7 separate regions of the Homo sapiens genome follow, and regions 2, 3, 4, 5, 6 and 7 are each reported to be linked to region 1. Evidence: microRNA targets listed by miRTarBase, many of them from high-throughput screens and not tested one by one. Region 1 holds a microRNA gene; each other region holds the end of a gene's coding sequence.
Evidence for each region. Region 1 holds the annotated microRNA hsa-miR-1-3p (UGGAAUGUAAAGAAGUAUGUAU, at 2,094-2,115, opposite strand). A microRNA usually pairs through its seed, bases 2 to 8, with sites in the 3' UTR of a target mRNA and lowers its output. Matches are read on the target gene's strand: a 7mer-m8 pairs with bases 2 to 8, a 7mer-A1 pairs with bases 2 to 7 and ends in A, and an 8mer does both.

Region 1 (4,473 bases):
AAGCTTTAGAGATTCACGCATGGGAGACTCCAGCCCCGGGTCCCAGTGTCTCCAGGAAAGCAGCAGGATCCCCAGGGAGCACCATCAGGCCACACGTGCAGGGGAGAGGGGCTCGGGCTGCCATGGGCGGTGTCCGTGCAATGCTCATTTTTAATTCAGCAGATCAGAGACTGGAGGTGATTTACCGCCAAGCAGGCCGCAGCTCTCTCCCTGTGAACTCTCCAGTTTTACTGCTCAGTCAAACCTAATTCCAAAACACTAATGCTTTTATTTAAACACCACATCCTGCAATAAAGCTTTAATGTACAACAGCCGCATCTAGGGGAAAAGAACGGTGTGTCTGTGGCCACCGGCAGCCTCGGTGGCCACACGCCCGGCTACTTCCCTCCCTGTGGCCGGAGCTGGGAGCAGGCAGGGAAGAGATGACGTCAGCGGATGCTGGGCACTGACCCTCCGGGTCCAGAGGCCGAGAGGAGGCTGTGCCCGAGGTCAACACCCGCCCCCTTGCTGCTACGCCAGATGGGGCTGAGGCTGGGAGAACGAAGTTTCCAGAAGGAAGACCTGAAGGCCAGGAGCCCTGACTGCCAGGCCCTCCCCTCCAGTCACCTCGAGGCTCCCTGAGGGGTGGGAGCCACCTGAAAGCTCAGAACGGCCCCCAATCCCTTTATCCAGCGCTCCCTATGCTGGCCCCAGCTGCTCAGGTGACCTGGCTGCCCCCAGACCCAAGGCCTCCAGCCGCTGCAGGAGGGGGCTGCCTGCCTGTCCCTTCCCGCCTCATTCCTGCCGAAGGCCAGGGTGCGGGAGGTAGGGCACAGGGGCACCGCTGTGGCTGGAGCAGTGCCAAGGCAGAGAGGACACACACCCCAGAAATTAATCCTGAGGCCTGTGGCAGGGTGGGGGTGCCCAGGCAGGGACCTGGCCTCATCCCAGGTGGCAAACGCCTCCAATCTGAGACTCAGAAACGAGCCGGGCAAACGCCCCTCACACAGCAGCCCAGCCGCTGCCTAAGACCCCAGAACCCGCCGCCCATCCTCTCCTTGAAGGACCAGCACTGGGGAAAAGGGTTTCACGGACGGATCCGGACCTGCCCTCATCCCCTGGGCCCCAGGACATCCTCCCAGTCCTTTCTCGGGTCAGGACTGGGATGGCGGCAGAGCAGATGGCTCTCAGGCCCCCGACAGGTGGGGCAAGGGGCCCTGGGCCACACGCTGCTTTCTGCCAAAGCCTCACCTGCATTCACAGCAAAACATGCCTCAGGTTGGATTCGGCGGAACAGAGAGAAAGCTGAACCGGGGCTTTGGTGGGGGTACAGGTTGGGGCGGCATGAACCAGACATTTGGCAAAATCGAACGGCTCCCAGGCCCCTGGGGTGGGCTGTGGGTTCAGGGCTGCACAGACTCAGCTCCTCTGACCCTGTCCCAGGTGCCCTCGGCAGAGGAGTGGGGCCTAAGGGCAGTGGTGGCCCTGACCCTGCCCGCGTCCCCAGCATCTCGTGTGGGCTGCGCCTTCCTTGGAGGCTACATGCCTCCGAGTTCCTCTGCCTTGCCCTACAGCCGGGAGGGCTGGATGCAGGTGCAGGAGGTGCCTTCCCTCCGCAGACTCTACCATGTGCTGCCCAGCCTCTCCCTCCTTTCTGCATCCAGCCACCTGCCCTTTTCCAAACTCGCTCTTGTCTTGTGCCTCTGAGCAGTTTCTGCCCTGGCCACACGTGGCCCTTTCTGCCGGCTGATGGCCTCTTCCAGGATGGCCATCAGTGGAGCCCCCAGAGCCGCCGCCACCACTCCGTGCTTTCCAGCCACGGCCCCGACCCCCCAGCCCTCACCAGCCCCGCGCTGGACCCCGCGCCTGCCGGAGGCCGCCTCCCCTCTGCCGCAGTCAGCAAGCTGAATATTTAATGTCTGGTGAGCACTTCCACCTGCTGACACAGGCAAAGTGACAGAACAATGCTGGCGGGGACACGACCGTCCACCAACGCCCAGGCAGCCTGCCGCCCCAGCCTCACCCCCACCACAGCCGCCTGGCTGGCTGTCGGCCGCGGCGGCCCCCGTGGTGTGGAGTGCCCCTCAGTGCGGCGAGAGAGGTCCCGGCCTGAGATACATACTTCTTTACATTCCATAGCTTAGCAGGTCCATATGGGCATATAAAGAAGTATGTTTCCCAAGCAGGCAGTCTGCATGCAGTTCCAAGACCCCGGGACGCCGCCCCGGTAGAAGCTGACCCCACTGCGATGTAGAGAAGGCAGCTCAGAGGCAGTGTAACTTCTTCCCTGGAGTCTACTGCCGGAGCCCTCTCTGTGTGAGCAGGACAGCCTTCCTGCCACTGCTGCCTGGTGTCCAGCCACCCCCAGGGGCCCAGGACTCCCTGCCCCCTTCTGACCTCGGCGCCCCTCCATCCCTGAATCCATCTCTCTCTGTCTGTCTCACACACTCACACGATCCAGAAAGGCAGAAGTGGACAGTGAGCCCCAGAAAGTCTCGAGCGCCTGTCCCTGGCCCCAGCAGTAGCTCGGTTTTGCGTCCATGGAAGAGACAGGCTGCCCCTCCACCCTCACCCCAGAGCAGGGAGGCATCATCCATGTCCCAAACTTTCAAAGCCAACACTTTCCTGTCCCCCTGGGTCACCTCATCCCAGCCAAGCCCAGAGAGGGCTGGGTGGAGAGAGGAACCTTGGGGGGCGCCCTGCCCAGCACCCCACTCGCAGGACCAGCCTCCTCCTTCTCCGGGAGCTGGACAACTCCTTGCTCCTGAGGCCAGACGAGGAACTGCAGACCAGAGACCCGAGAGGTGTCCTGGGGGCTTACCTGGGCATCTGCTGGTTTCCTGGGCAGGTCCCTGGTGAAGGCTGCCTCCCGGGACCCCGTATCCATGAGGAAGGGCTCAGCACCTCTCTCCGAAGATGCAGGCGAGAAAGACGATGCTTGGAGGAGTCCAGGTTCCCAGAGGGTGGTCAGGATCTCCTGAGAGGCCGTCCACTAGGGGGGCAACTCCCTAGGTGCCTCAGCCTGGCCACAGCAGACACCCAGTGGGCGAGGGAGCGTCGCTCCCCCGGTTCTCTCCCTCCTTCTCTCGCTCTTCTTCACCCTCTCCCCCGTCCCCGCCTCGCAGCGTCACCACCCTGAACCGCCGCGCAGTGCGGCCCACCTGAAGCGGCAGCTGCGCAGAGCCAGCAGCTTACATGGGCACCGGGGGTCAGCAGCCACCGTCACCTGCCCAGCGCCACTGCCGTGGCACCCCCGGGAGGCTGGTCCCACACCTGGCTCTTTGTGGCCAGCCGCCCAGCCTCCACCAGCCCCTGATCAATACCAATTTACAGTCAAATGCAGGGGGCCGCCTTCCTGTTAATGAATTTCCCGGTGCTCACCAGCTCCTAATGAGCCTGTTAAAGAGGGTTTAAGTAAACTTAGCGAGTGGCAAACTAAGCACTTTGGAATACTTAATTGTATCGATATGTTTTTCATTGCGTTTAAAAATGTCTCTGAGTGGGAAGCAGAGGCTGCCTCCTTCCCTGCCAACTTCTATGACCAGCCGTGAAGCCAGACTCTGAAAAATGTGGAGAAAGAGCCAGAAGGAGACCAATGGGACCTCAAGGTTAGGCCCTCACCAGCAGGAAGGGAAGCCGCCCCGAACCTGCTGGGAGCGGGGAGAGGAGGAGGAGGAGGAGGAGGAGGCCTGCAGGGTTTCGAGGCCTCGCAGTGGCCCAGGGCGAGCCTGGCACGTGCGGTGGTGAGAGGTGGAAAGAAGGCTTTGCAGGTGCCTGGGGGGGACGGGGGCCAGGGAGGCGCCAGTTGGGGGTGCAGGCCGGGCACAGACACAGGAGGCTTGCTAAGCGGTGGGGTCCAGCTGGGCCCTGGCCCCTGTCCTGCCACTGACCCTGGCGTGGGGTGGGACAGCAGCCCCGGGACATGAAAGGACCTCCCGTTGTCCTCATCAGGAAGAGAGGTCCAACATGACTCTGTTGCTCCTCCAGGCAGCCCGTCCATGCGAGGGGACAGCCCGGAGCGAGTTGGTTCTCTCTTACCACCCAGGGCAGGGCAATGTCTCCGCAGAGCCTGCAGTGTGCAGAGGCCACTGAGCATGCTGTGGCTGTGTGGCAGTGGGTCTGCAGCTGGGCATGGCTGGGTTGGAGTTTCACGTGGGGGTGGGTGGGGGCGGGGGGTGGGGGTTGTGCTTAAGGCTCTGGAGGCATCCCCTCTACAAAGGAAGGAGCAAATGGCAGACAGAAGCAGAAGCTGATGTCCCATTTCCACGTAGCTGCTGTGATTTATCATTTTCACGTAGCCAAGGATACAAAAAGGGCACCCGACACCGCAGCCTGAGCTTCAACTTCGGGGGCACCTGGGTTCCGCCGCTCATCTGTGCCCTCCCAAGACCTCCGCAATAACCGTCCCCGGAGTCCAGGGAAAAGGCCTCCTCAACGTCCCCAGCTCCCTGGCACATGAGCTCTCAGAGCCTGGGACACTCCCGCAGCCTGGCT
Region 2 (4,473 bases), not on the chromosome of region 1:
CACTGCGAAGGGCCCTGTCAGGGCGGGCCAGCCCAGTGCCTGCCCCCTCCTCAGGGCTCCATGCTGCGGTCCGACTCAAGGCCTGCAGCCTGGCCGCCAGTGAAGGCCTCTCAAGTGCTCAGCCCAACGGACCGCCTGAGGCAGAGCCACGGCCTCCCCAGTCCCCTGCCTCAACGGCCAGTTTCATCTTCTCCAAGGGCTCTAGGAAGCTGCAGCTGGAGCGGCCCGTGTCCCCTGAGACCCAGGCTGACCTCCAGCGGAATCTGGTGGCAGAACTCCGGAGCATCTCAGAGCAGCGGCCACCCCAGGCCCCAAAGAAGTCACCTAAGGCTCCCCCACCTGTGGCCCGCAAGCCGTCTGTGGGAGTCCCCCCACCCGCCTCCCCCAGTTACCCTCGAGCTGAGCCCCTTACTGCTCCTCCCACCAATGGGCTCCCTCACACCCAGGACAGGACTAAGAGGGAGCTGGCGGAGAATGGAGGTGTCCTGCAGCTGGTGGGCCCAGAGGAGAAGATGGGCCTCCCGGGCTCAGGTACAGTGGGCAGTGCTAGGGTGAGGTCCCATTGCTGATGATGGGAAGTAGGAATCTGAAGTCCCGCCATGGGGGATTTGTTCTTGGATCTTTAACTTTTCTGGTCTGAGAATGCCTGGGAAGGGCAAGCTGTCACCCTTGCTGGGGCCCAGAGGAGAATGGTGTGTGAGTGTCAGGCCTACTGTGTTTGAATTCCAACTTTGCCTCTTTCCCTACCCTTCCTAGCTACATTGTAAAGTGTGGGGCAGTGACACCTACATTATAGTGTCTGAACATGTGTAGGGTGTCCAGCCCAGTGCTGCGGGCACTGTCAGTAAATCAAAGCGGTAAGAAGGTTGGGTGAGGGTATGCTTTGTTGGGCTCCTAGTGCCAGAACCAAGCCAGGAGGCCCCTTGCTAAGTGTCTCTTATTTTTCTCCCCCAGACTCACAGAAAGAGCTGGCCTGACCACCAGGCACCTCACTGGCACTGCTGACCCATCCCAGAAACACAATCTCAGGGACCCGAGCAGCTCCAAGGACGAGAGGATACAGCAGACACAACCTAATAGAGAGGGCGCCTGCAGCCTTAACCTCCACGGCCTTCGATACTTATGCAAGCCTGGTGTTGCTCCTGTCCTCAGAGTCATCCTGCGCTCATGCCTTTTCCCGAATGGGTTCACCTCTGGCAGTTGCCGCTTCAGTCTTGGCCTTAGCCTCATCTTGAAGTGGGTAGCTGGCGGGAGAGGGTGGCTGCGCCCCCTGCTGGCCCTGAGGCTGCAGAGTTGGGAGCAGGACACCTCACCTGAGTTTCATTTTTTTTCATGTCCAAACCATGCACATACTATAGTCCAGAATCAAAGCACTTTTGAAAAGTGGCTGCATGGCCATCCTCCAGGGCCCAGGAAGTTGCATTCCAAGGGCCTGTTTACATGGCAGCAGAATCCATCCCCGGCAGTCAGCCCATAGCTTGGGACCAGTCTGTGCCCTCCTGCCCAGTCCAGTTTACTCCTCTTGGTTCCTGAAGGTGGCCAAGTCATTGTGTTCCCACAGGCTTCTCTAGGCTGGGGGCAGGTGTGGGGCTGTGGAATTCCAAAGCACAAAAGGTGCAGAGGGGATTGGCCTTCCTGTGCCTCAACTCACCAACCACCCTCCTGCCTTCCAGTTCTGCCAGGTGCTCCATGCTGGGGACAAGTAGGAGACTGCCAGGGCCCAAAGAAATGGGTGAGCAGTAGAGTCATCTCGGGGCACTTGGCAGTGTCAAGCACCTGCCCCTTGCCTCCTTGACCACACTGGGGTGGGTGGGCCCCCAGCACTTCAGAGGCAGGAGCCTTTGGGCTGAGCAAGCACTGAGGAGGTGGATGGAAGGGAGCATCTGGAGGGGGGGAGCTTCCTTGAGCAGTGGGCCCAGGCCTGGCCCTCCACACTTCATTCTCTGACCTTTCTCTCTCCTCATTTCGGTGCATGTCCTTTCTGCAGCTGCCTTTCAGCACAGGTGGTTCCACTGGGGGCAGCTAACGCTGAGTGACAAGGATGGGAAGCCACAGGTGCATTTTACTCAAGTCTTCTCTAGTCAATGAGGGGCACCCAGTGCTTCTAGGGCAGGCTGGGTGGTGGTCCCCTAGGTATCAGCCTCTCTTACTGTACTCTCCGGGAATGTTAACCTTTCTATTTTCAGCCTGTGCCACCTGTCTAGGCAAGCTGGCTTCCCCATTGGCCCCTGTGGGTCCACAGCAGCGTGGCTGCCCCCCAGGGCCACCGCTTCTTTCTTGATCCTCTTTCCTTAACAGTGACTTGGGCTTGAGTCTGGCAAGGAACCTTGCTTTTAGCTTCACCACCAAGGAGAGAGGTTGACATGACCTCCCCGCCCCCTCACCAAGGCTGGGAACAGAGGGGATGTGGTGAGAGCCAGGTTCCTCTGGCCCTCTCCAGGGTGTTTTCCACTAGTCACTACTGTCTTCTCCTTGTAGCTAATCAATCAATATTCTTCCCTTGCCTGTGGGCAGTGGAGAGTGCTGCTGGGTGTACGCTGCACCTGCCCACTGAGTTGGGGAAAGAGGATAATCAGTGAGCACTGTTCTGCTCAGAGCTCCTGATCTACCCCACCCCCTAGGATCCAGGACTGGGTCAAAGCTGCATGAAACCAGGCCCTGGCAGCAACCTGGGAATGGCTGGAGGTGGGAGAGAACCTGACTTCTCTTTCCCTCTCCCTCCTCCAACATTACTGGAACTCTATCCTGTTAGGATCTTCTGAGCTTGTTTCCCTGCTGGGTGGGACAGAGGACAAAGGAGAAGGGAGGGTCTAGAAGAGGCAGCCCTTCTTTGTCCTCTGGGGTAAATGAGCTTGACCTAGAGTAAATGGAGAGACCAAAAGCCTCTGATTTTTAATTTCCATAAAATGTTAGAAGTATATATATACATATATATATTTCTTTAAATTTTTGAGTCTTTGATATGTCTAAAAATCCATTCCCTCTGCCCTGAAGCCTGAGTGAGACACATGAAGAAAACTGTGTTTCATTTAAAGATGTTAATTAAATGATTGAAACTTGGCTGTGGCTACTGCTTCTTAATGTGGGGGGGACAGGGCAGTGGTCTGGGCCCACATTTAGAAGGGAAAATGTTTTGCCTGCTGCACACATTGGACCCAAGTATGGGCCTCTTCTGCCTAGTACTGCCAAAGGGACTGTTAAGGTGTCTTGTCCATCTTCTACCCCCCACCCCCCATTACAGGGTAAAGGAACCCCAGACTAGGTGAGGGGCCAGCAGCTGCCTCACACTTGTGTTCTCTCCTGAGATGGTCCAGCTCACATCCAGACACCCTTGTTCAGACATTTTATTTGAATTTATGACAGTGATGGGGATTTGACTGAGATGCCTTATGGAGAAGTACCCCACCCTCTATGAAGACAGAATCACTCTCTGCCATTCATTCTGCCTGATGCTAACAACACGCAGCTGATTTAGGGAGTGTCCCAGCCTAGCTGGATCAAGGGAAATTCCAGGAGCCCTGGGGCAGGCCCTGGCCCCCAGTGCCAAGCCTCAGAGTAAGCAGACATTGGGAAAGTTGCCAACCACTTGGTAGACCACTAGGTTCTCTGTTTTCCCTTCCCTTTCCTTTTCAAATCCCACAGTTTCCTGTTGGGGAGAAGCTGTAATTAGCCTAGTCCAGGTACCAGATCCCAGCTAGGGGCGCAGCTGCTTGGATAACTCCAAGAAAACCTGGGCACCAGTATTTTTCCAATTATAAGGACTGTGGCATAAATTTTTAAATGAGTTATATTGAAACCAGATTTCTCCAGCTGCCAAGGGAAGAAGGTAGGGCTGGACTCCCTGCTGTGGCCCAGCCCTTGTTAGGGGTTGGTCTCTCACTGCAGCCAGACAGGATGATCCTGGGTTCTGGGGAGGGTAAGCTGCCCCTTGCCGAGTTCTGCACCGAATAAAGAGTCCAAACCCGCTGCTTCCGTGTCCTGAGAGATGGGTAAATGGGTGATGGATGGAGCAGACTGAAGAGACAGCAGATGACTCAGTGGTGGAAGAAGGGGGGAAGATGCTGGGCTGGCTAGCTAATGTTCCCCCCTTTCAGCGATTTACAGGAAATGGAGCCCAGCTTGGTCATGAAGTTGGTTTGCTTCCACTGTGCGATGCACTCCTCAGAAATTTTGAAGTCAGCCTGGACAAGACAGATAAGAGAGATTTTAATGATGGTGGTGGGACTGCAAGAAAACCCCCCCTTTTTTGGAGGGGGGGCAGAGTTTTGCTCTTGTTGCCCAGGCTGGAGTGCAATGGCGTGATCTTGGCTCACCGCAACCTCTGCCTCCCAGGTTCAAGCGATTCTCCTGCCTGAGCCTTCCGAGTAGCTGGGACTACAGGCATGCACCACCACGCCCGACTAATTTTGTACTTTTAGTAGACACGGGGTTTCTCCATGTTGGTCAGGCTGGTCTTGAACTCCTGACCTCAAG
Region 3 (4,473 bases), not on the chromosome of region 1:
AATGTAAGACATTATCTAATGTATTTAGTGCCTTATCCCACTACCATGTAAACAATAATCTCACATTAGGTGTCCTACATTTTGGGAAAAGATGACCTTGTCTTTTTCGTATTGTAAGTGTATTTGAAACTTATTTATACAACTGTAGTGATGCCTCCCCCTTCCCAGCCTCACTTGACCCTGGCTTCTGTCTGATGCTCTACTGACTGTCTCGTTCCTGGTTCTCCTGTGTAGGTACACACTGGCAGCTCAGGACCTGGTGATGCGTGCCCGGGGTGTGCTGAAGGACAGAGGATGGCGGATATCTAATGACCGACTGGGCTCAGGAGACGACATTTCTGTATATGTCATTCCTTTAATACATGGAAACAAGCTGTCATGAAAATGGCCCAGGGGATTGGGAGGACAGAGGGGAAGAAAGCTGGGATGCCTCTTGGCAGGACGGAACTGGGAAGTGCCCCAGCTGAGTTCCAAGTGATGCAGTCTCTTCCCAGCCCAAGCGGGGAGTTCATGGCCAAAAGACTATGCTTCAAGATGACCCTTTGGTTTCCATTTCTTCTTTAGTAACAGGTCAACTCAACAAGAGCAAAACACAAAGGCTGCTACCAAGTGTTGTTGTATTTCAGTTCCTTTCATAGGCCTCCGAGGTGGCCATTGACTATTTGGGGTATATATGTCATATTTATTTTATCTAGAGTAGCTGGGGCAGCCATTTTCAGGTGTAAATGGCAGAGGACTCTTCAGCCTGTCAAGCTGCCAGCTTATCTACGGGTTAAAAAGTGCTGCATTGGAAAGTAGGGGGTCATGCCTCAAAATGTAAGTAAGTGCCCACCTTCTAGGAAGCCTGAGGTTTATTTCAGGGATTGCCGTCTGCCCCCCGCCCCCCTTCTCTTTTTTTCTTCTCTGTTTCTATTCTTTTATGGCAGTGGTGGAGTGAGGCAGGGATTTTTTTTTTTTTTTTTCGTGTTTTTGACATTCCTTGAATCTGTTTTTTATTCCCCTTCCACAGAACAGGCCTGGGACTTTCCAACACCCTGCTAAGGAAGTTCTGTGTCCAAGTCCCACCCAGGCTGGGTTGTCCCCACCTCCTCCAGCCCACACAGCCCAGGCAGCATCCGGGCCAGTGCCCTGCATGACAGAGGGTCTTTGTTGTGTAATGTTTGTTCCCAAGTTGCATTTTCTAACCGAATCAGTGTGTTTTCATGAAACTGAGTGTTTCTGTGGACCAGTAGTTCCTCTGTTGTCTTCAGTGGTCTTCCTGTGTGGCTCAAGGGTTCTCTGTGAGAGTCTGGATTTTCATTTCTGGAATGGCTGGCCCCATCCCACTTTTCTGTATCATGGGGACACATATAAAGCAGTGTTTAATAGAGCAGTTTAAGAAGTTGCTTGCATCTGTTGGTTCACCATGGCTCATCTGGGGACCATTTTGGATTCATGTTTCATGGCTTGTGACTGTCCCCAAGCCCACTCCAAACAAAGTGTAAGGATCAGAGTTCTGTCAAGGAGCAGCAGTTCTGCTCTCCCCATCATCTTTGTGCAAGGCCCCTCGGGGGGCACTTTAATAAAAGAATTTGAAATGGGTTGACTGGCCATTCTCATGCTGTGCTCCCTGTCTCTTCTCTTCTCTAAAGAATCATGTCCCAGCTCCTCAAGGTCCCTCTATGGTTCCACATCTGAGTGTTCGCCACAAGAGCAGCAGCAGCAGGCACAGTGCATGCCATATCTACCTGCTGCTTCTCTGCTGGGAGGAATGGCCAAGTAGATTATAAAACTCACTTCTGTCTCTTAGGCAGACTTGTACGGCCACAAAATTACCTAGTCTTCTTCCTGCTGAGCTACTGAGGTATTGCCACCATTTTGACAACTTTGAGTAATTAAAACACTCTTCTGACCCAAAAAGGAAAAAAGGTCACTGACGTGACCCCCCCAGCATGCTAGAGAGCTAATTCCAGTTCTCATATTTGTTTGAATTTCTTCCCAGAGGAGAGGATAGGAACCTCTCCTCCAGGGCAGTAAATCACCTGCATTTCTGGAGTTGTCGGTATTGTATTCGAAAAGGCCTGGAGCCCCTCCTGCTCAGGAAAGAACTCATTCCAGGGTGTGGAGACAGTGCCGTCTGGCAGGTGAAATACTGTGGGAATTCACGCCACCAGGTGTTTGTGCAAGTGTTGGCCTGGGAAGAATGGGACTTCGGCCTTGTCAGGAGTTGTCTTCATCTGCAGCACGTTTCTTCCTCCTGCAGTAGATCTTAGCTACCCCAGATATCTCTATGGAGAGAAGTTTGTGGAAAATGCTTTGCTTCGTGGCAGAGTCTGATGCTGTAGGAAAACCTTCGGGCATGTGACAGCAGTGTGGTCCACTCCCTGTTCTGCCCTGGCACTCAGAGTCATGTGTAAGTAGGAAACCTGAGCAAGTCTTCCGTGGAGGACCCTGAGCTGCCGTCTTTGGGATCCTTCCTGTGTCCCCACCGTCTTTCATTTATTTGCTTTCCTGGGCCTCTATCTGGGCCCTACCTTGAGCTTCTCCAGTTTTATTCAAGCCACCAGAGTAAGAATTTGGGTGTAGATGTCACAACTACCTTCTACTCAATTCACCAATTCATTTACTGCTATGGCACGTCTCAGGAATAACTCTAGAAACCTCTAAATCGAAATATTATAAAATCTTGAGCACTTAGTCCTGCTGGTTTTAGTTAGAAAGGCATCCAGGAATTGTTTTCCTACGCCCCCTTGAGTGGAAAGATCTTAGTTAGAAGATAAAGTCAAGTTTGTGTTCAGGGGATGGGAGGAAGACTATAAATAAGATGAAGAAATCAAAAGTAGGAAACATGATGTAAACGAAGCATGGCAGATCTGTCCAGCACTGATATTGCTCTATAAATTGAGCTTACTCAGTTTTGGCCTTATTTTTTTACCCAGGCCCCATGTCACCCAGTCCTAAAACAGTAACCGTGTCTACATAACGGGTTGGCCCCTGGTGCATCCCTGGAAAAGTCAAAGGACGCACACTTCGAAATTCTGCAGAACGTATTTATACATGGTTCAGAAATCTTGCGTATCTGACTTATAGCCAAATCTGCTTGCTCGAATAGCCTCAGAGGAAGTCTTGTTTAATAAAAACCTTTTGATTTCCTAGTCAAGTCTTTATGGTTGTCTCGAGGGGTGTGTGGCTACTTTAATGAAAGGCTTTCCTGCTCTAAATCTCTTTGCTGGGCTGGGCCTCTTCAGACTATCTGGTGAAACTCCTTTCCTTAGAACAAACTCAGTCCGTCCATGCTCTGTGGCATTTTGCTAGATGATAACCAAAGCCTTATTCCTGTAGCCAGTGTCAGCAGTCAGAGAGGTGGAGGGTGTGTTCTGCTGTGGTTATGCATACCTATCTGCTGTTCTTGAGGTGTAAAAGGAAAGGTGAAAATCGGGCCAGGCCAAGTACTCAGCTGTCTTAATAGGATGAAGCCTTAAGCAGTGGAAATTTCAGTTATTTTCCACAGTATTCCATTTTGGAGGATTTGGGGTGTTTACTTTTTAAATTCTTGAACAACTTAACCTCCATGAGGCTTTGTGAAGTCAGCTGTGACCACCCTCCTCTTACTGTGTTCTCAGTATTCATTCACTTCCAGGGAAGAATGACAGCCACAGGGAGATGGTGGTGGGCAAGAATGAGAGTCCCAGGATCCAGATTTAGCCTCAGATCTTCCCCATTCAGGAAGGGTTTTCCATTTAACAAGAGCACTAGTATGAAAACATTAGGGACAAATCTCCCATGTCTTTGAAATTCGGATTCTCCTCTTGAGATCCCCTTCCTCACCTGCCAATCAACTTTATAAGGCCACAAGTGGTCACTGGTTTTCCTTCCACAGGTTTGAGGTTCTCAGCTTTCCTTAAGCGACCCAGCAGCTCCGCTGTTTTCAGAGTGAATATGTTAAGCTTTGATGAGATTCTATTTTCAGTAAGTTAGTGCTTCTGGGACACTTGGAGAAAGCTGTGAGAGTCATTGTCTACGCAAAGAACAACGAAGCTGATCCTAAAAGTGATCCAATCTAAGAAAATGGTAAAACGAGCTCTGGCCACAGCACAGAATTTTATGTGAGGAACTCAGATTTTTGAAGACTTAACAATTGCAGAGAAAGGTTGCAGCCTGCACACCATAGCCCACCTCTCTGAGCAGACTTTGGTTTTGTGTGGTGACGTGGCACATGTTTGTACACTGGGATTTTTCAAAGGACGCTACGCGAGCAGACTGACTTGCCTCTTCTGTGAGCACTGTGGCTTTTGTCAGATGGAGTGCCGGTCTGCAGAGGACTGCTCTTTCGAATCCACAGTGTTATCTGTGTAAATAGCTTTAATTTTTCTTCTGTGTCTTAGGTGAAGTTTTGTTCATGTAGCAACCAGGTAGACAGTGACCAAATAAGGCTGTAAATGTGCTGTAGTTTTCTACTGTGATGTACTTGAAGGAGAACCTGTGTCCTCTACT
Region 4 (4,473 bases), not on the chromosome of region 1:
CTGAGAAGGAATATGTATTTGACATTTTATAGTTAATACTGGTGGTTCTCATATGGTGCCACTTAATGTGGGATATGCAATTGGTTGTTACTAGTCTTTGATAAGTAAAACGGAGTAAACATTTAGACCTTTATAATAATGTGTTACTAAAACAGCATGTGATTACATTTTTTAGTAATTTGTGTTCTATGGTATTTTTAAAAGTATTGGCCCATGACAAATTAGAAATGAAAAAAAATATTTAAATCCCATGTAATTTAAGAAGTACTCTTCCAAGATATTTCCTTTTCAGGCTCAAGGACCAAATAGCAAATACAAATGTTTTATGTATGAAGGGATTCATCATTAAAATTTGTCTTTGGGACTTTCCCACTAGTTTAAATGTATTTGTCAAAAAGTCTTTGGTCATGTCAACCCCAGAATTGAAATGCTACTGCCAAATTGTTTATAATCACTCATAGTAAGAGATCAGGACTGCAATGCTCCACTGATTGGGCATGCCAAAGAAATAAACTACAATGTTGTGGCATTTATCTTTTTATATTGCACTTAACCACGGAAGAAAAAACCTTTTGTATCATTTTAAGGTAAAGGCCGAGGGGCAAAGAAAAGGAAAGCATCTGGCTCTGAAAATGAAGGCGATTATAACCCTGGCAGGAAAACATCCAAAACAACAAGCAAGGTAACCGGGAACATCATTGCATATTAGTGCATGGCTTTTTAAAAAAAGATCTGTAAGTGACTTAGTTTGCTTATGACTATAGTCCTGGAACAGCTTTCCACCTAGCATCTCGTATCAATATGGGGCTTGTATTTGGTTAAGAAATTATTCAAGTATAAATTTATATAATCAGGACTATTTCCTAAATAACTGTGCTATAAATTAACCTACTTAGAACCTTCCATTTCATCCACTGAACTGTAGTAGTGTTATGCTACCTAAATATTAGACTCTTTCAGACTAAAATATTATTTTTCAGACTAAAGACTGTTTCCTTTTAACTTGGATTTATTTGACCAGGGCTAATTTGATTTTTTTTTTAATTGAATTCATTTGACTGTGGCTGATTTTTCCAATTAGTCTGACCCTTTTCCAGAAGTACACTATTTCTTTTAGGTAAATGAATGACATCAGCTCCCCCGCATCCCTTTTTATGTTGATTTCCACATTGACCTCTTCCATTCAGTCATCTTCTATGTCTCAGGTCCACCTCGGTGATGCTTTGCATTTTTTTAAACACTTACAGTGCACACATACTACACACGGTGCAGGAGTCTTGTTTCCTCCCATGAATTCTTGATATGTACTTACCAGTAGGACAGCTTGAATTTTTACTAATCTGGGCATTGTGCATACTTTTTGGGTAATATATAATTTCAGAAATAAAGGTGTTACATTTTTCAGGCTAGAACTTGGTAAATATGAAACCACCAAGGTGGTGAATTACTGTATGTAATCTTTTTCCTCCAAAAAATAAGATAACTGGTCTTACACTTAGGTTAGCATTATGATTCTAATTTTAAAAGCACCATTATTTGTAATACTTCCTAAACATAAGCGAAGTTTAAGGAGTGATAGTTCTTAATACTAGTCTTTACTTCCTTTCATAACTTTTAAATCTATTGAAAAAAAATCTAGAAACCGAAGAAGACATCTTTTGATCAGGATTCAGATGTGGACATCTTCCCCTCAGACTTCCCTACTGAGCCACCTTCTCTGCCACGAACCGGTCGGGCTAGGAAAGAAGTAAAATATTTTGCAGAGTCTGATGAAGAAGAAGATGATGTTGATTTTGCAATGTTTAATTAAGTGCCCAAAGAGCACAAACATTTTTCAACAAATATCTTGTGTTGTCCTTTTGTCTTCTCTGTCTCAGACTTTTGTACATCTGGCTTATTTTAATGTGATGATGTAATTGACGGTTTTTTATTATTGTGGTAGGCCTTTTAACATTTTGTTCTTACACATACAGTTTTATGCTCTTTTTTACTCATTGAAATGTCACGTACTGTCTGATTGGCTTGTAGAATTGTTATAGACTGCCGTGCATTAGCACAGATTTTAATTGTCATGGTTACAAACTACAGACCTGCTTTTTGAAATGAAATTTAAACATTAAAAATGGAACTGTGTTCTCTGTCTCTTTACTGAAGATAAAGGTGTAGTAAAAGCTCCCACACACCTTTAAAATAAATATATTTTATTCTTTGCCAGGAGACTCCATGGAAAAAGGTAAACAGTATATGAACATAGAAAGCATTGTTAAACAAACAATCTCAATGTACAAACAGAGCCAGTGAAAGTACATCACAGACTTGCTAATATATCAAAAAAAAAAAATTCCACTAGTGCTTAAATGAGAACTAAGAAACTGACACTTGTATCTGTTAACCACTCTACCACAGCTTTCACTCTGCTTCATAGTGATTGAACAAGGTCAAAGGAGGCAGATTCTATGCCTGTTTCTTTGGGAGTTGTTAATATTAATTAGCCCCTTGGCATCAAGAAGGCTGGAAAAAAAAATCCCAATATCAGGCATGAATCAGGAAGGACACTAGAGTTACATGGTCCAGGTGGTAGACCAGCCTGCTAATTATCCCATGAAATTTCCCTAATGGCTTGTGAACAAGTAAACAAAAACTTAACACTGAAAAGTGTTTCTGCCTTGGAGGCTATCATTACTGTAAAAAAATTTTTTTTAACTAACTGTGTAGTTATGTCATTAAACAAGTAATAAACCACTTTTAATTTAAAGTGACATTAACAATTGAACAAATGACATTTGATTAACTGAACTGGCAGTTACACTGATACAGAATTCTCTTCTGCTAGTGCAGGGAATTTGTATACTTTTACTGGGCAACATGAAATAAAAGATGCAGTTTGAGAGCATCAGAAAGAGCAAAGACAAGCTTCCATACTAACTAAAGTAGAATATCTTCAGCCTTATCTTGTCATACTGTACAATAGTCCTGTCAATAGTCCTGTTTCCTTACCTTGATGTCTTGACTATTCCATGAAAGCAAGACAGTTATCTTTTTGAACCTAGGTAGACGTGTACAGTAGTCTATTTCATAACCTTGGTGTCATGGTTATTTTGAGTATGCAAGACAAAAGGAAAGCACCAAACATACAGTATAGAAAGAACAGAGCCATACTTCTGTATGTACAAAGTCTTCAGAAACTTAACCAGGGGTAAATCATTTTGACTGGGTCTTTGCCATGCAATCTTGAGTGTTCAAAGAGGAAAATAGAAGCTTTTAACTAGTTTCTGGTTGCATGAAATGGCTGATTTTTTAAAATTGGAAAAGTTTGTATTTCTAGGTAAGTTACACAGTGAGGAGTATATATATTGATACATATGAAAACTTCTTGGTCCTTCTTGAGTTTTAATATCTTTTCAGTCCAAAAACTAAGCAGCAGTAAAAATGTTTTTTCTTGCATTTTAAATCCTGGAACTGAAGGTACTGGGGAATGTTTGAAGTAGCTAGAAAATGTCTTATTGCACGAGTGGTGACTGACTGACCCCACTGTTTTCCACTGAGCTGGGTGAGATGCTAGGACTGTGCTCTGCTGTGTTCCCACTTGAACTTGGGGTCAAGGGTTCATGTCCTTCAGAATTCTCCAGCATTTCTTGAATGAGAGGTGGCATTGATCCAGGAATTTCCATTTTCAAGGTAATTACACGCTCTGCACCTTTTCAAAAGAGATAATGGAAATATGGTTAAGATAAGGAGTTAAGCTATGACAGATAACCAGGGACCAATTTTCATATATTTTAACAGAGGTGTTTCCTAAGATTCTTGCTTAGGAATTATGAAATGTAGATATCAGGTGGCTTTTTGTTGAAAAAGATCTATCGATTACTATCACACTCATAAATACAAAGAAAGATAAATGTATTTGGAATGGGAACTGCATCCACCAAAAATCATGTGTTAGTTTATTGCAAAGTTAGTTAGATTGGGTTCTCAACCAGCTCAGACTCATAGTATGTTGATAGAGAGGGTCTTTTTATGATCTGCTAGAACTTCATTCGTCTTTTATGCAAGCAATAACTGATACAATTGCTCCTTTTGATAACAGAAAATTATGCAAACAATGCCTCCCAGAGGCTATCCTTATTTTACACCATTAAAACATTTTTACTTTGTGGAAAAGCAGCTGAGATATGGTGACGTTTAAATATGATGTCTTAGTTTCAGGAAATAACAATTTACAAAGAGAAGTTCCTGATGAAAGAAGTGTATCTTGAAAAAGACAGGTTGATGGCAGTTACCCACAAACAGAGGAGTTCACGATGTGCAGTGACTATTGACAACTAGATTTAGCAGCACTCTGTCCAGTACAATACCCACTAGGTAGCTAAATTTAAATTTGTTAAATAAAATGAGAAAAACAGTGCCTCAGTTGCATAAGCCACACTTCAAGTGCTCGAGAACCTCTTGTGTCTGGTGGCTACTGAACTGGAC
Region 5 (4,473 bases), not on the chromosome of region 1:
GTCAGGCACGGTTCTGGAGGTTTCTGTGAGGATTAAATGGAAGGATTTCATAAAGCACCTAGCACAGCCTGGCACACTTCAGGCACTCAGGAATGTTAGGTCTCATTATTACCACAATTATTACTGTTGCTGGGTTTGTAAAAGCTGCTCTACCCCTTTTCCTTTTGTTCTTGGGCTCTGCCGTAGTTTCCTTTGTTCATCCCATACCTCATTCCCATACCTCGGGAATGAAGGCAGCTGTTTCCTCCCAGAGGAACCTCAGAGTTTTCCACAAAGACTTAGATCCGTTGAGCAAATGCTGCGGGATTGTCCCTAGTACAGAGGTGCTTCTTGAGAAAAAAGAGGTCACAGTATATATTTAGTCTGCTGGTGCCATCCCCTCACATTTCTCTCCTTGGCCCTCACAGGAAGAATTTGAAAAAGCACTGGTGTGGTATGAATCCACATTGAAGCTTCAGCCCGAGTTTGTCCCAGCCAAGAACCGAATCCAGACCATCCAGTGTCACTTAATGCTGAAGAAGGGACGGCGCTCTCCTTAGTGCACTTCTTCCTTCTCTCTTTCTCTTTACTCATGCTCTAAAAAAAAAGAATAAGAAAAGAAACCAATCATTGTCAGTATCTACTATTAATGATGTGTGTGAAAATAACTAAGACTTATAACAGGACTTTTACATATGTGGGAATTGGTTTGTTTTTGTTTTTACGTTTCTCCTTTCCCCCAACCAACCTCAGAAGAGGCACCTTCAGAAACACACATTTCTTAAAAGGAAAGTGCAGCTTCAAGATATTGTGTAAATACTGAGCCAAGACATTTCTGGAGCTGTGCTCTGTCTCCAAAAACCTCAATGCCTTTAGGGCTTTTCTCAGTGGTCCAGCTAGCCTTCTCTTTGGAGGAGGATGAAGCCGCATTGCACATTCTCTGCTTCCTGTCGTAGCCTCTGTTGTCAATGGAAATGCGGAAGCCCATCTGGTGCCCGTCAGTGAGAAGCAACGTTCTGCGCTCTCTCCGTTAGACCTCCATGCTGTCCCCAGTCTTGTCCATTCCATGCTGCTGTGTTACAAACTCTCAGAGGTAGTTTGCAGGGGAGGAAGGGGAATATGATTTTAAAAACAAAATATTTACAACAACAAAAATTCTTAGGATCACCTGACCTTTGTAATGTTATTTATGTTGGGGAGGGAGGGGGGCTGAGAAGGGGAAATCAGCAGTGTGCAACATCTTTATAATTTGTACTTTAATTACAAATCACAAGGAAACCAATAAGTTGAAATCCTATATAACAGGTTTATATATATAGAATATGTATATTTGAAGCCCTCTACAGACTGAGTCTATGTTTTACTAATTCTTTGTTCACTGTGTTACCCATCTTGGAATAAGTTGTGAATGTCAGCTCCCTCTCTCTGAGGCCTCCAGACTTAGCTCCTCAGGAGGGTAATGAGCCAAGGTTGAGTGTTTCCATACAATGCTTTTACCTTTGATCCCAGGAGAATCAGAAACTCCAACATTTTGGAATCTTCAAGGGCACATACTGAGAAAAAAAATAAAATTGTTTATGAGCAAAATAGGTCTGTCATGTGATTTTTCTTTAGAACCTGACTAATTTGGGCAGCTGTGAAGTCCAGCTTTAACTCTGGATGTGATCTTCCCAAGCCCTACATTGGCTTTATCTTTCTTTCAGCAGCAAGGTGAGGGGAGAAAAAACAATCCATCACTAGGTTTTATAGTTGATGAACTTATTAGAATGATGCATTTAACCGGGAAAGACTTACAGTCAGCACATGTTCAGAGTTTGGTATATAATTGACCTTCCTGGCAAAGGAATAATCATCTAAGCCACAAAGTCATGGCCCTCAGGTAAGCACTGATCTTAAAGTTCATCCAAGTAAGTTTCACAGACAGCCTTGGGGTGCATCGTGTAAGTCAGGCATTCCCCTTGGGACAGGATTCCACTGAAGGCAGCATTTCTATGGACTTTGCTAGGATGTAATCAGACACTGATTGTCTCAGATAATGGCTCATGGAACTTGAAGGGTTTGGTTCTAGCAAAGACTAATTTCTTCCAAGCAGGTCTGTAATTTCTTACACCAGACATACCTGTGACCTCTCTACGCAGCTAAAGTCCAACAAACTCCAGTTTTATCAGATGTATTTTGAGAACAGCAAGCTCATTTGTTACTGAATACAGTCAGCCTTTATGCACTCAGGGATCCATCGAAATTAACTAGTATCTAAGTGTGGTTCCCTGCTTCCCCACCTCACCACAATTTTTTCCTGAAACCTTCAACAGTTGCTTGACTTTTTTTTTAAGACGCAGTTTCACTCTTGTTGCCCAGGCTGGAGTGCAATGGTGCAATTTCAGCTCACTGCAACCTCTGCCTCCCAGGTTCAAGCAGTTCTCCTGCCTCAGCCTCCCAAGTAGCTGGGATTACAGGCATGTGCCACCACACCTGGCTAATTTTTTGTATTTTTAGTAGAGACGGGGTTTCACCATGTTGGCCAGGCTGGTTTTGAACTCCTGACCTCAGGTGATCCACGCACCTCAGCCTCCCAAAGTGCTGGGATTACAGGCGTGAGCCACCATGCCCAGCCCAGTCACTTGACTTTTTAAAATTAACATACTATGAAATTCATTCTGGTGTACAGTTCTATCATGCAACCATCACAACAATCAAGATACAAAACTTTCATCACCCCAAAAAGACTCCCCCATGCTGTCCCTTTGTAGTCAAACCTCCCCAACCCTTAACCCTGGGCAACCACGGGTCTGCTCTCCCACCCCGTCACTTTTCCTTTTCCATAGTGTCATATAAATGGAATTCGGGTATGGCCTTTTGAGTCCGGCTTCTTTCCCTCAACATATTGAATGCACTTGGGGTTCGCCCATGTTGCGTGGATCAACGATTCGATACTTTTTGTTGCTGAGTAGTGTTCCATTGATTGTTGGCCTGTTGGAGGACACTGGGATGCTTCCAGCTTCTGGAGATTGTAAATAAAGCTGCAATAAACACTTGCATATAGGTTTGGCCGGGCACAGTGGCTCATGCCTATAATCCCAGCACTTTGGGAGGCTGAGGTGGGTGGATCACTTGAGGTCAGGAGTTCAAAACCAGCCTGACCAACATGGTGAAACCCTGTCTCTTCTAAAAATACAAAAAAATTAGCCAGCGTGGTGGTGGGGGCCTGTAATCCCAGCTACTCAGGAGGCTGAGGCACGAGGATCACTTGACCCCAGGAAGCAGAGGTTGCAGTGAGCTGAGATTGCACCACTGCACTCCAGCCTGGGTGACAGAGTGAGACTCTGTCTAAAAAAATAAATAGTATATAGGTTTTTGTGTGCACATAGGTTTTTGTTTCTTTTGTGTTAATAATTCAACAAATATTTTTCTACTCTGGACTTTTTTTTTTTTTTTTTTGAGACAGTCTTGCTCTGTCGCCAGGCTGGAGTGCAGTGGCACAATCTCCGCTCACTGCAAACTCCACCTCCTGCTTTCAAGCGATTCTGTTGCCTCAGCCTCCCGAGTAGTGGGACTACAGGTGCATGCCACCACGCCCAGCTAATTTTTGTATTTTTAATAGAGACGGGGTTTTACCATGTTGACCAGGATGGCCTCGACCTCTTAAAAGCAGGAATGGTCAGCCAACAATGAATGGAGGCACCTTCGAGTCGGTTTTATACAGAAGGAGTACAGGGTAGGAACAGCTACAAATCTGCTTATCTGAAAGGAAGAGGAAAGAGCTAGATCTCTCTTTGAAATGACTTGGAATTGCCTCCACAGCATTGTTGCCAGCCTCATTTCAGATGCTGCTTCAAATCAGGTGTGGTGGGAAGCTGTACTGTGTGAAGGCTGACAGACCATGAATGTGTACCTCCTGCAGGGCTGGTGATGCGAGGGCCCAGTGATGATGCAAAGGCAGGCAGCAGCCCTGCCCTGTGGGTGCCATCCTGGAACTCTATGGGGCTTATTTACTAGATAGGTCAAAGGTCTGACTCACACTAGACTTAGACACTGGCACCAACTAGCTGGGAATGAAACTTGGAGTCCAACTCTCCAGCACAAAGGGCAGCTGTTAGTGGCCTTTCTGTTCCACATACAGCAAGGGTCTGAGAGCTTCCAAGGCAGATTCCCCCAGAACTTTGGCCTCATGAGAACTTTGGCTCTGTAGCAACTCCTCTGTGGTAGGACCGTTCCTGACTCAGAGCCCGAGAATGGGTTCAACAAATCTGGGTTCAAATCTTAGTCCCGCCTCTCGTTAGCAAGGAGATCTTGAACAAGTATTTAGCTCTGAGCTGAATTTCTCACTGAAATAAAATAATCTGAGAATGATAAGAGCTACTGTTCTTCACAGGGGATAGCTGTGAGAAGTAAGGGAGATTTTTAAAATATGAAGCATTTAGCACAATGCAAACACCCAGGAAGGGGTAGCTATTGTTATTTGCACCATGTTGTAGACACTGGATATTTTAAAGA
Region 6 (4,473 bases), not on the chromosome of region 1:
CCAGGAGGCGGAGCTTGCAGTGAGCTGAGATCACACCACTGCACTCCAGCCTGGACGACTGAGTGAGACTCCGTCTCAAAAAACAAACAAACAAACAAACAAACAAACAAACAAAAAAGGATAGCTAATACCAGGCTGTCAGTTTCTCTTTTGGATTCAGAAGAATGAGAGTGGGGTGGGGAGCTGACAGGCACAGATTTTCCACGGACGGCCCTTTACTTGATAGCCTCACTGTGTGACTCACTGTCCACTGGCGTTTGTTATAGCCTCGTCCAGCCTCCTCCATCAGGAAAGCCAACTCATCGTTTCAGCGGTGTATCCTGGGATGAAGTTGTTTCGTGCAGTCTATCCCTGTTTCCCATTTCTTGAAATTCATTGGTAACTTTGCCCCAACAAGTGTCTTGTAACCACTTCCCTCGTTCTCATTATTGTTTTTCCTTTTTATATTTATTATCTTTCCAGTAGAATTTAGTGAAGAAATATAGTCTGCCATCTTGAATTGTGGAACAGCATGCATTTAAATTGTATTTTATTTAATTTCTGCCTGAAAATATTGAGTTCTCAGTGATTTACATCAGTTGGTATGTGACAGCTCAGTGATGCAGAAGAGACCATTTTGTTCTCTGAGAGTCTCATCAGAATTGTGCTTGCATTTATGTAGTACTTATGTCTATGTCAGAGTGCTGTGTCCTCCCATCTTAGATGACGACTATATATTAATATGTCCTCTGCTTTCTGTTGTTCCATTACATTAAGGGTAGAATACTGTATTCACAGTGAATAATCTGTTAGTATTCTTCAAGACCTCTTATCTGCCAGGCAGGATGCTAGATCCTAAAGATAACAAAGATAAGTAAGGTATGTTCCTTGTCCTCATAGACTCATGGGAGCTCACATTCTAGGTGGGTAGAAAGACCAGTAGTTATGAGACAATATAATAGACATCACAGTGTACAAAGAGCTATTCTCGTGTTGCGTAATGAAGCATATAGGTACTGAACTAGCAAATAAAGGATCCTCAGTCAGTACCGGTGCTTCCTCATCATATGTAAGTAATATTTAAGATATTTTTATGTTTAAGATGCCAGAAGCTAAATAAACTTTTCTCCCTTATAGTTTTGACACATGATGAACTCTAGCACTGGTGTATATGAGAAGGAAGGCGAAAGCATGACAGGAAACCTGCCGCCTGCTGGGGAAGTCTGGAGCCCCTGCTGAGACGATTTGGAAGTCTCGTTAAGATCAGTGACATATTCTTTAATTTTAAAAAATTGTAATTATTTAAAACAGTTATTTAATGTATTGAATGAGTTTAAGTTATATAATAAATGACCATTGAGTATTTAAAACCTGATTGTTCCTTTTTCCTGATCACCAGTTAAAGTTTGACATTTTGCCAGATAGCCCAGGTACCGGACTAGCTGGTGTTTATCAAACTATAGCCTTTTGTATCTGGTTTTATGTGCATCCACATTTCCTTATTCACAAAATGCATTTAAAATTACAGAAATGCATTTAGGCTGGGTGCAGTGGCTACACCTGTAATCCCAGCACTTTAGGAGGCCAAGACAGGTGGATCAGCTGAGTTCAGGAGTTTGAGACCACCCTGGCCAACATGGCAGAACCCCGTCTCTACGAAAAATACAAAAAATTAGCTGGGCGTGACGGTGGGCGCCTGTAATCCCAGCTACTTGGGAGCCTGAGGCAGGAGAATTGTTTGAACCCGGGAGGCAGGGGTTTCAGTGAGCCGATATTGCGCCCATTGCACTCAAGCCTGGGCGACAGAGTAAGACTGTCTCAAAAAATAATAACAATAATAATATTACAGAAATGCATTTAAAATTACAGAAACCTATTTTGTATTTTTCCTTCTGAGACAACAATAATTAATAATTAAGCCCATTTATTCCTTAACTATTGTTTTAAAATGGAAGTAATATTGTTGCATAGTAATCATTTATCTTAAACAATGTTTTAATCTTATGCGGTATTTGGATTTTTTAATGTTTCTAATTTTATGTCATAAAAAGCATTTATGGGCATGTGGGATATATGTGTATTCTCTTTTTAAAAGGACTAGGTACTTTTATGGGAACTAAGTTGAGGATGTAACCAGTTTGTTTTTCTGATGTGTATTAATAATAGATGAATAATAGTAAATGTTTAAAAACTATCCAACTATTCTAAAATCATAGGATCATGGGACTGGAAGAGAACTCAGTGCCATTTGGACCTCATCCTGTGGAGAGTCTGATTCATTAGGTCTAAAGTAAGCTTGGTAAATCATGATTGTTTAAAAAGCTCTCCAGATGGTTCTGTAATTAGACAAGTTTGAGAAGCATTTAATAGAATTGGGCCCCAGCCAGTGTGCCGGCCCCTCTTCTAAGGCCCTGCCTGTAAAGCTGAGCCTCAGGCCATCTTGGAAATTCCAGGACAACAGGGAACTCTCCACCTCTAGAGACAGGCTGGTCCATCTTTGGACAGCTCTGTACACACAGTTCCATCATGAGCCGAAGCTCACTCCTGTGAGCTTTTCAGAACAAGGCTAATCCTTCTGTGTTTGACAGAACAGCCCATAGAGTTAAAATACTACTCCTCCCATCAGCTCCATTCATTCCTAATAAGAGAGCGCCTGCCTCTCCCTCTTGCAGTCATCCTCCCTTTGTTACTTGTTCGTGTTTGTCTGTATTAAAATGGAGTGCACCATTTATGGCCTGCTCTGGTGGAACTAGGTTATTCCTGTGAGTTCAGAGTATCCTATAGGGTACACTCAGAGGCTGGAGCAGTAAATGGTCCTGGGGCGGCCAGCGTCATGGTGCTCTCCGGCTCACTCTTGGGAGTCAGCTGAAGCTGGGGATTGGTAAGAGGTGAGACTCTGTAAGGTTCTAGGTCAGGCCAGATGCTCCACCCAGCTACCCAGAGGTCTGCTGCGGTGGCTGGGGCACAAACCTCAACTATAAGATGGTACTTTGTTTTCCTTTGTTACCAGCCTGTCTTCACTTCTGTGAGAATCTTATAGAAAGGATGATCAGCTGGGCAGAGACACCGGATTCCTACTTTTATTACCTACAATGGCCTTCTCCAGTATTCTAGGTCCCATATTTTCATGGAGTATTAAGCTAAAATTACAGAACAATGTAAACACAGTCTTGATGGCCCCCCTCCCTGTTTGCATCTTGTGATCTGAGTGGCCAGTTTACATGTTACATTTCCAGGTGAGTGACACCTTATACCAGAAAATCCAGATTTATAAATAAGGTATTTCTTTACAGTGAGATGTTTTAATTAAATGGCTTGTTTTAAAAATGCTGTTATGTCAAGAGCTCTCATGCATACAAACTGCTGTGCCATACAAAAATGTACCCTCCTCAGGGACACATTACATAACTGAACCATAGGTCTTATTTGCTAACACTTGGAGAGAAAGCCATTCAGTTCCTTGTCCTGGAGATGCTGAACAAATATAGTCCAACGGCTTTCATGGTATATTCAGGATCCTAAATTCTGGTTCTCGGCTGCAGGCCCTATGTCAAGTTTTAACAAAAATCAAATCCTAGAAGTAGTGGAGGTCAGCGGAATGTGGGGGAACTAGTTTCTAACTATGGGAAGTGATAAATGTCTTCTCTTTCTGCCTTCTTAGAAAAAGTGTCAGAACAGTGTATCTAAACTAAGAATGAGAAGCATTTGTGTTTGACCCACAGTGATGTGTGAGCTTTATGTAGAAAGTAGACCCAGAATCTGAGCATTAAGACAATCCAAAGTCAGCATACCACCTCCAACACTTAGGTCCAAAAGATTGTATTTGGGAAATGCCTGTCATTTGGCTCCAGTTACCCTCAAGCTCCTAGAGAACAACATAGCTCCTAGAAGGATAGCATCAAATACTTCTAAAGGCACCTAAAGCCATGTCAGCCTGGGGTTATAAAATCAGGCTTTTAATATTAAACATGTAGTCTGACACAAGTGGGACCTGCCCACAGAACTGCTTGTTGCTGTGTGCCAGGTCCTGACTCCAGCACCTGAAAAGCAACCAGACAACAAATTGCCACTGCCCAGAAGAGGCTCCAGGGACCCAACAGAATACTTTCATGGGCAGGAGGTACGGGACAAGTCAGATGAACACGTGGATCATGTGTCTCAGATCCATAGTTACAGAGATGAAGTAAAAGGTGCTGATGGGCCCATGCTCAAACCAACAAGCAGAAGTTATGACCCAGCCATTGTCTCACTCACTTCTGTTACTTCATAGACTGAAGGGGCTCCACTCACTTCTAAAGAACCAGTTGATTGGTTAAAATCTCACCTTTGGTGGCAGAGTGAGGAAGAGGAAACATGATGGTCCAGGGCTTTGATGGCCAAAATTACAGGTAACTTTGTAAGTTAGAGGGGCTCGGTCAGGTGTGTAAGCCCATTCTAGAACCTCTCTTTTTTAAAGTCTTCAAGTGTTATCGTAATGTGACAGCTGTTCCCCAT
Region 7 (4,473 bases), not on the chromosome of region 1:
AATTTTCTTGATCTTTTAAGCAGTCTGCTAAGAACCAAGCTGTTTAACTAATTTGTTTTGCTAACTTGAGGTTAGTATGGAATGCTATCCTGAGTTACTAAGAGCTTAATAAAATTTGACTGTTTGAATCACATTATCACATTCAGAATTCATAGGATAATGTTAATTGAATCTTAATTTAGTCTCTAAAAACAAAGTGGAATTATATTCAAATTGACTTTATCTGTTCACTACTAAGTATGCTGACACTTTTCATAATGATGGATTAGGAATCTTTGCTGCTTAAATATATCATTTCTATTGATCAGGTATTTGGTATGAAATTAGATTAGAGGTAAAAGAAACTACTTAAAGAATGAACTTTTCTTATAATAGAAAATAAATAACAGCACAACCCTTCTTGGGGGAAGTGTTAATAAGAGATATAAAGATTTTGTTTTTTCTTTTTTAATATCAGAAATCCTGAAATAGCATACTGTAAGAATTTGGACTTCACTTAACCCAAGTAAATACAAGGAAGATTTTTGTCTAAGACCCTCTCCACAAAGACAACTTGAGAGCCAGGTAAATGGCTACATCTGAACAAAATATTCATAGCAGGTATGTTTTCCAGGTCTTTCTGAAAAAGCAGTACCTACTGCATACGATGCAATGTAAATTGTTGAAACTCCTTGAAACAGATGGGAAATACAATGGCAGGGGAAGGGGTGGGTGAAGAATAACTTACACTTGAAATAAGAGATTTCACTGTATCAAGAATCTTTATATTAAAAGAGCTGCATTAAAAACAAAAGCAAATCAAACCCAACACATAATGAGAAAATGCAATAATTTCTGAGGTGTGGTCTTCTTTGGTGAGTTCCACTGGGATATATTTATATGCTCTCTTTCAACCAGGCCATCACCAAACAATTGTTTGTTCTGTACTTAACAATTAAAACTGACAAAAAGACTTTTTCATCATGAGCTTCAAGCAGCCATAGGAGTTAAGAACACATATGGTGCTTTTATATTTACACAAGCAATCTCTCATGAGTCCTATAGAGATTGGGGAAATAGAGCTATAATAGTTATTCCTTTTTAGAAAGAGCACTTGTAAAATACGGAAAGTGGTTAGATAAATATCCCTCTATACAGAATTGATCAGTTAAAGAACTTTAGAAAAGTCAGCAGTTCATTACCTGAGTTTCCCAGTTAAGGGCTAACTAGTAATTAAATGTTTTTTTTACTTAAGAAAGTGAACAAAAACTTACAATATTAAAAGGGGCCAGTGTCAGAAAATTTAGACTCAAAATTAAGTTTCAGACTTTTGAAGGTTTATAAAATCTAATAGGAATATCTATGAATTTTCCTTCTTAGTTAAAACATGAAGTCACAGAACTATACTGACTTACCAGATGTTATCAAAACTTAGGTTGGGGGTCAGCCTGCAAAATCACTAAAAAACAAATCAATATTTTTTTGGAATTTTGAGCAAATTTTTACAAGTGATAAAAATGAATTATTAGTGACCTCGGTTATGAACCCATATGAGATTTTTAGTTAACACCAGATAAAGACTTCAGCATAAGCGTGATTTTTAACCTGAAGAGATCCCTTTTGAAGGGTAATATAGAAAATAACTATAAATTTTATCCAGAAAAATAGTGCACCCAGTGTTTTGCCAGCAGTTACCTAAGCTTGCCTTTCGACGAGGTATTTTTGTCATGCTCAACCATGGACAATCGGCCAACAAATTATTTGTTTAAAACAGATAGGGCTATGTTTCTAAATACAACACATTATTCAAACTCAGGATTCCAACACTATTCTGAAATTGAATACTTTATCATACAAGAACTATAACCATGTTATTATTCTGAGCACATTATTTCAATTCCAGGTCTAAATTAATCAGCAAAATCACCATTCTAAAACATTAACATAGAGCAGAAACGTAAAGCACTTTGGTCTGTATAATTAGATTATTAAACAAATCGAAAGAATCTCTTTCCCTAATGCTTCACCTCATGATGTAAAGTTGAAAACACAACTTAGGAACACATTTCTGAGGAGCAATTCCCAACATTTGTTTCTGTATACAACTCAAAGCAGCACTGAGTAAATTCACCCAAAGAACAATTTTAAAAAACAACATTTTGAAAACCCAAAGCATCTTTCTACTTTCTTTCATTGTTAAGTCACAAAACTTACTACGATCAGTCTAGAGCTCAGAAAATGGTCAATGTGAATTTGGTACATAAAACAAAGTTCTCATAATTAGTGGTTCTGGTTCTAGGTCAAGGGCACAAATAGTGTATTTCATTTTCCTGTTCTACATGCTTAATAGTCAGTGAAATATTTTGCCCAAGAGCCCATGCTATGTTGGATTTTAATTACAAAGGTAAATAAAAGCTCTGCTGATGGTCAGGCAAAAATTATTGCTAAGCAACAACCACTTAGCAATTTATTCACACTTTAACGAACAATTTTAGATGAGATACATATTTTAAGCCAGAGAGCAGATGGATTTCCCGTGCTTGTAGCACTAGTTCACAGCAAGGGCAGGCTTGAGGGAAATCGATTAATATCCAGTCATCCCTCGGTATCATGGGGAATTGATTCCAGGATGCCCTCGAACACCAAAATCTGAGGATGTTCAAAATCCTTGACATAAAATGGTGCAGAAATTGCATATAACCTATGCACATCCTCCCATATACTTTAAATCATCTCTAGGTAATTTATAATACCTAAAACAATGTAAATCCTATTTAAATAGTTGTTACGCTGTATTGTTTAGGGAATAATGACAAGGAAAAAGTCTGTACATATTCAGTACAGACACAACTTTCTTTTTGAGTATTTTCCATCTACAGTTGGTGGAATCCACAGATGCAGAACCCACAAGTACGGAAGGCTGACTGTATATATAAGTGGATTATTTTGTGTAACAGGCAAAATTTGAATAGATTACCACTGCCACACTGTGCTGAGAAAAGGAGAGGGCCTCACTGGAGCACACCAGCTCTTTAACAGGGTGCTTTAGTAAATTTTTTTCCATCTGATGCAGCTGCATATCAAGATATGAAAGATGATTAAATTACTCAAAAACCAGGCTTCTATCATTTTAAAATTTAATTATCTATTAGAATATTAAAATAAATCTAGGTTCTCCAAAGTTGTTCACCAGTACTACATAGCAGTATTGAGATTAAGGTGGGAGGAGCCTCTGTATTTAGGTTTTAAATATTTTTAAAATGTTGGTAAAATGCAAATAAGTTAAATGATAAAGGCCTAATTCAAACATACCAGCCACTAAAGATTATTTTCTTCACTCACAAAAACCTTGCCTAAGGATAACAATAACTGTCAGGTATATGAAATAACACAGTTTAGGGTTTTGTTGGAGGCAGGGGAACATTTAAAATACTCTATGACAATGCACTTATGTGAAGTTCCACTGAATGAAGGTCTTGGCCAATGGAGAAGACAGCTGGTATTAAAATAACTAGCACAGATTCCTTGATACACACACAATGAAAACAAAAATAAGAACCCTGTACAGGTGTAAACAAGTTAAAAATGGCCTTGGCAAAATATCTTCCTCTATTTAAAAAATGCCAAAAAGCATGCAACTTATAATTCCCTCCTTTCCACAAGAATGAACTAAAAAACAAAAACAAAAAACCAAATGGAACTATCTCTTTCTGTCAGTAGATAATAGATACATTGTGTTTCAAGACAAATAAAACTTCAAAATATTAATATTGAAAAAATACAATTAAATTTTTATTAAAAATACATACTCCTTACGCGATCTTTGTGTACATTTTGTGTGAAAAGGAAAAAAAAATAGGAAAGGCATTAAGACTACCTAATTATTTATACTGTATTTGGTAGAAGCGTGTTTCAGTCAAACTTTAACGAAAAATAAGTTATTCTGTTTTCATTTGCTCCCGGACGTCAGAAGGCAGAGTTTCAAACAGAGCATCTTCTACAACTAAACCAGCTCGCTTCAGAGCCCGACAGTCACCCAGTTCAGGAGGGAGGATTTCAAAGTGATTACCTTTTACATCTAAGTAGGAAAGAAATAGCAAATTTCCAATTTTCGGTGAAAGTACAGATAGGCTGTTTTTTCCAATCTTCAGAGTTTTAAGTTTCTTGCAGAAGTAGAGTTCATCTGGAAGGCTTTCCACTTTGTTACATGTGATGGAAAAATACTGTAAACTTTGTAGAACTCCAATTTCAGGGGGGATAAATCGAATGTCATTGTACGATAAGTCCAAGTATCGGATCTTGTTGCATAGGAAGAGGTGGGAAGGCAGCACCTCTATTTTATTGTGACTAAAGGACAGGCGTTCCAGGCTGGTGAGTTTCTTTATATGCTCTGGGATGTAGGTGATGCTGTTATGCCACAGTTTTAGCACTGTCAACTTTCTTAAGTGCTGAAAGCTAACGATTTCTTCTATAGATTTCAGATTGTTTTCCTTC

Region 2: miRTarBase lists NHSL3 as a target of hsa-miR-1-3p. Seed matches in the 3' UTR shown: 7mer-A1 at 1,421-1,427.
Region 3: miRTarBase lists PPM1H as a target of hsa-miR-1-3p. Seed matches in the 3' UTR shown: 7mer-m8 at 973-979 and 7mer-A1 at 2,090-2,096.
Region 4: miRTarBase lists RARB as a target of hsa-miR-1-3p. Seed matches in the 3' UTR shown: 7mer-m8 at 3,473-3,479.
Region 5: miRTarBase lists TTC17 as a target of hsa-miR-1-3p. Seed matches in the 3' UTR shown: 7mer-A1 at 1,040-1,046.
Region 6: the mRNA of UGGT2 is a reported target of hsa-miR-1-3p. The part of its 3' UTR that is shown has no 7-base or 8-base seed match.
Region 7: miRTarBase lists LRRC8C as a target of hsa-miR-1-3p. Seed matches in the 3' UTR shown: 7mer-A1 at 78-84.

What each region holds. Positions count from the first base shown.
Region 1 is chr20:62,551,993-62,556,465 of GRCh38, reverse strand. MIR1-1 (microRNA 1-1) reads right to left here and starts at 2,160; the gene lies at 2,090-2,160. It overlaps MIR1-1HG (MIR1-1 host gene), which reads right to left. Exons shown (of 4, transcript NR_171007.1): 2 at 2,801-3,001.
Region 2 is chr1:32,771,911-32,776,383 of GRCh38, forward strand. It overlaps NHSL3 (NHS like 3), which reads left to right. Exons shown (of 7, transcript NM_020888.3): 6 at 1-531; 7 at 955-3,060. The coding sequence ends at 977. It overlaps YARS1 (tyrosyl-tRNA synthetase 1), which reads right to left. Exons shown (of 13, transcript NM_003680.4): 13 at 3,329-4,181. The coding sequence ends at 4,071. Among named protein-coding and RNA genes, the nearest start is that of NHSL3, 32 kb to the left of the region's middle. RefSeq lists a silencer at 1,098-1,392.
Region 3 is chr12:62,644,398-62,648,870 of GRCh38, reverse strand. It overlaps PPM1H (protein phosphatase, Mg2+/Mn2+ dependent 1H), which reads left to right. Exons shown (of 10, transcript NM_020700.2): 10 at 235-4,473. The coding sequence ends at 382. Among named protein-coding and RNA genes, the nearest start is that of MIRLET7I, 43 kb to the right of the region's middle.
Region 4 is chr3:25,595,644-25,600,116 of GRCh38, reverse strand. It overlaps RARB (retinoic acid receptor beta), which reads right to left. Exons shown (of 8, transcript NM_000965.5): 8 at 2,185-3,697. The coding sequence ends at 3,501. TOP2B (DNA topoisomerase II beta) reads left to right here. Exons shown (of 36, transcript NM_001330700.2): 35 at 588-682; 36 at 1,640-2,133. The coding sequence ends at 1,810. Among named protein-coding and RNA genes, the nearest start is that of TOP2B, 67 kb to the left of the region's middle.
Region 5 is chr11:43,493,366-43,497,838 of GRCh38, forward strand. It overlaps TTC17 (tetratricopeptide repeat domain 17), which reads left to right. Exons shown (of 24, transcript NM_018259.6): 24 at 408-1,566. The coding sequence ends at 539. Among named protein-coding and RNA genes, the nearest start is that of MIR670, 64 kb to the right of the region's middle.
Region 6 is chr13:95,798,456-95,802,928 of GRCh38, reverse strand. UGGT2 (UDP-glucose glycoprotein glucosyltransferase 2) reads left to right here. Exons shown (of 39, transcript NM_020121.4): 39 at 1,117-1,349. The coding sequence ends at 1,139. Among named protein-coding and RNA genes, the nearest start is that of DNAJC3, 120 kb to the right of the region's middle.
Region 7 is chr1:89,714,427-89,718,899 of GRCh38, reverse strand. LRRC8C (leucine rich repeat containing 8 VRAC subunit C) reads right to left here. Exons shown (of 3, transcript NM_032270.5): 3 at 1-4,473. The coding sequence ends at 3,918. Among named protein-coding and RNA genes, the nearest start is that of LRRC8C, 84 kb to the right of the region's middle.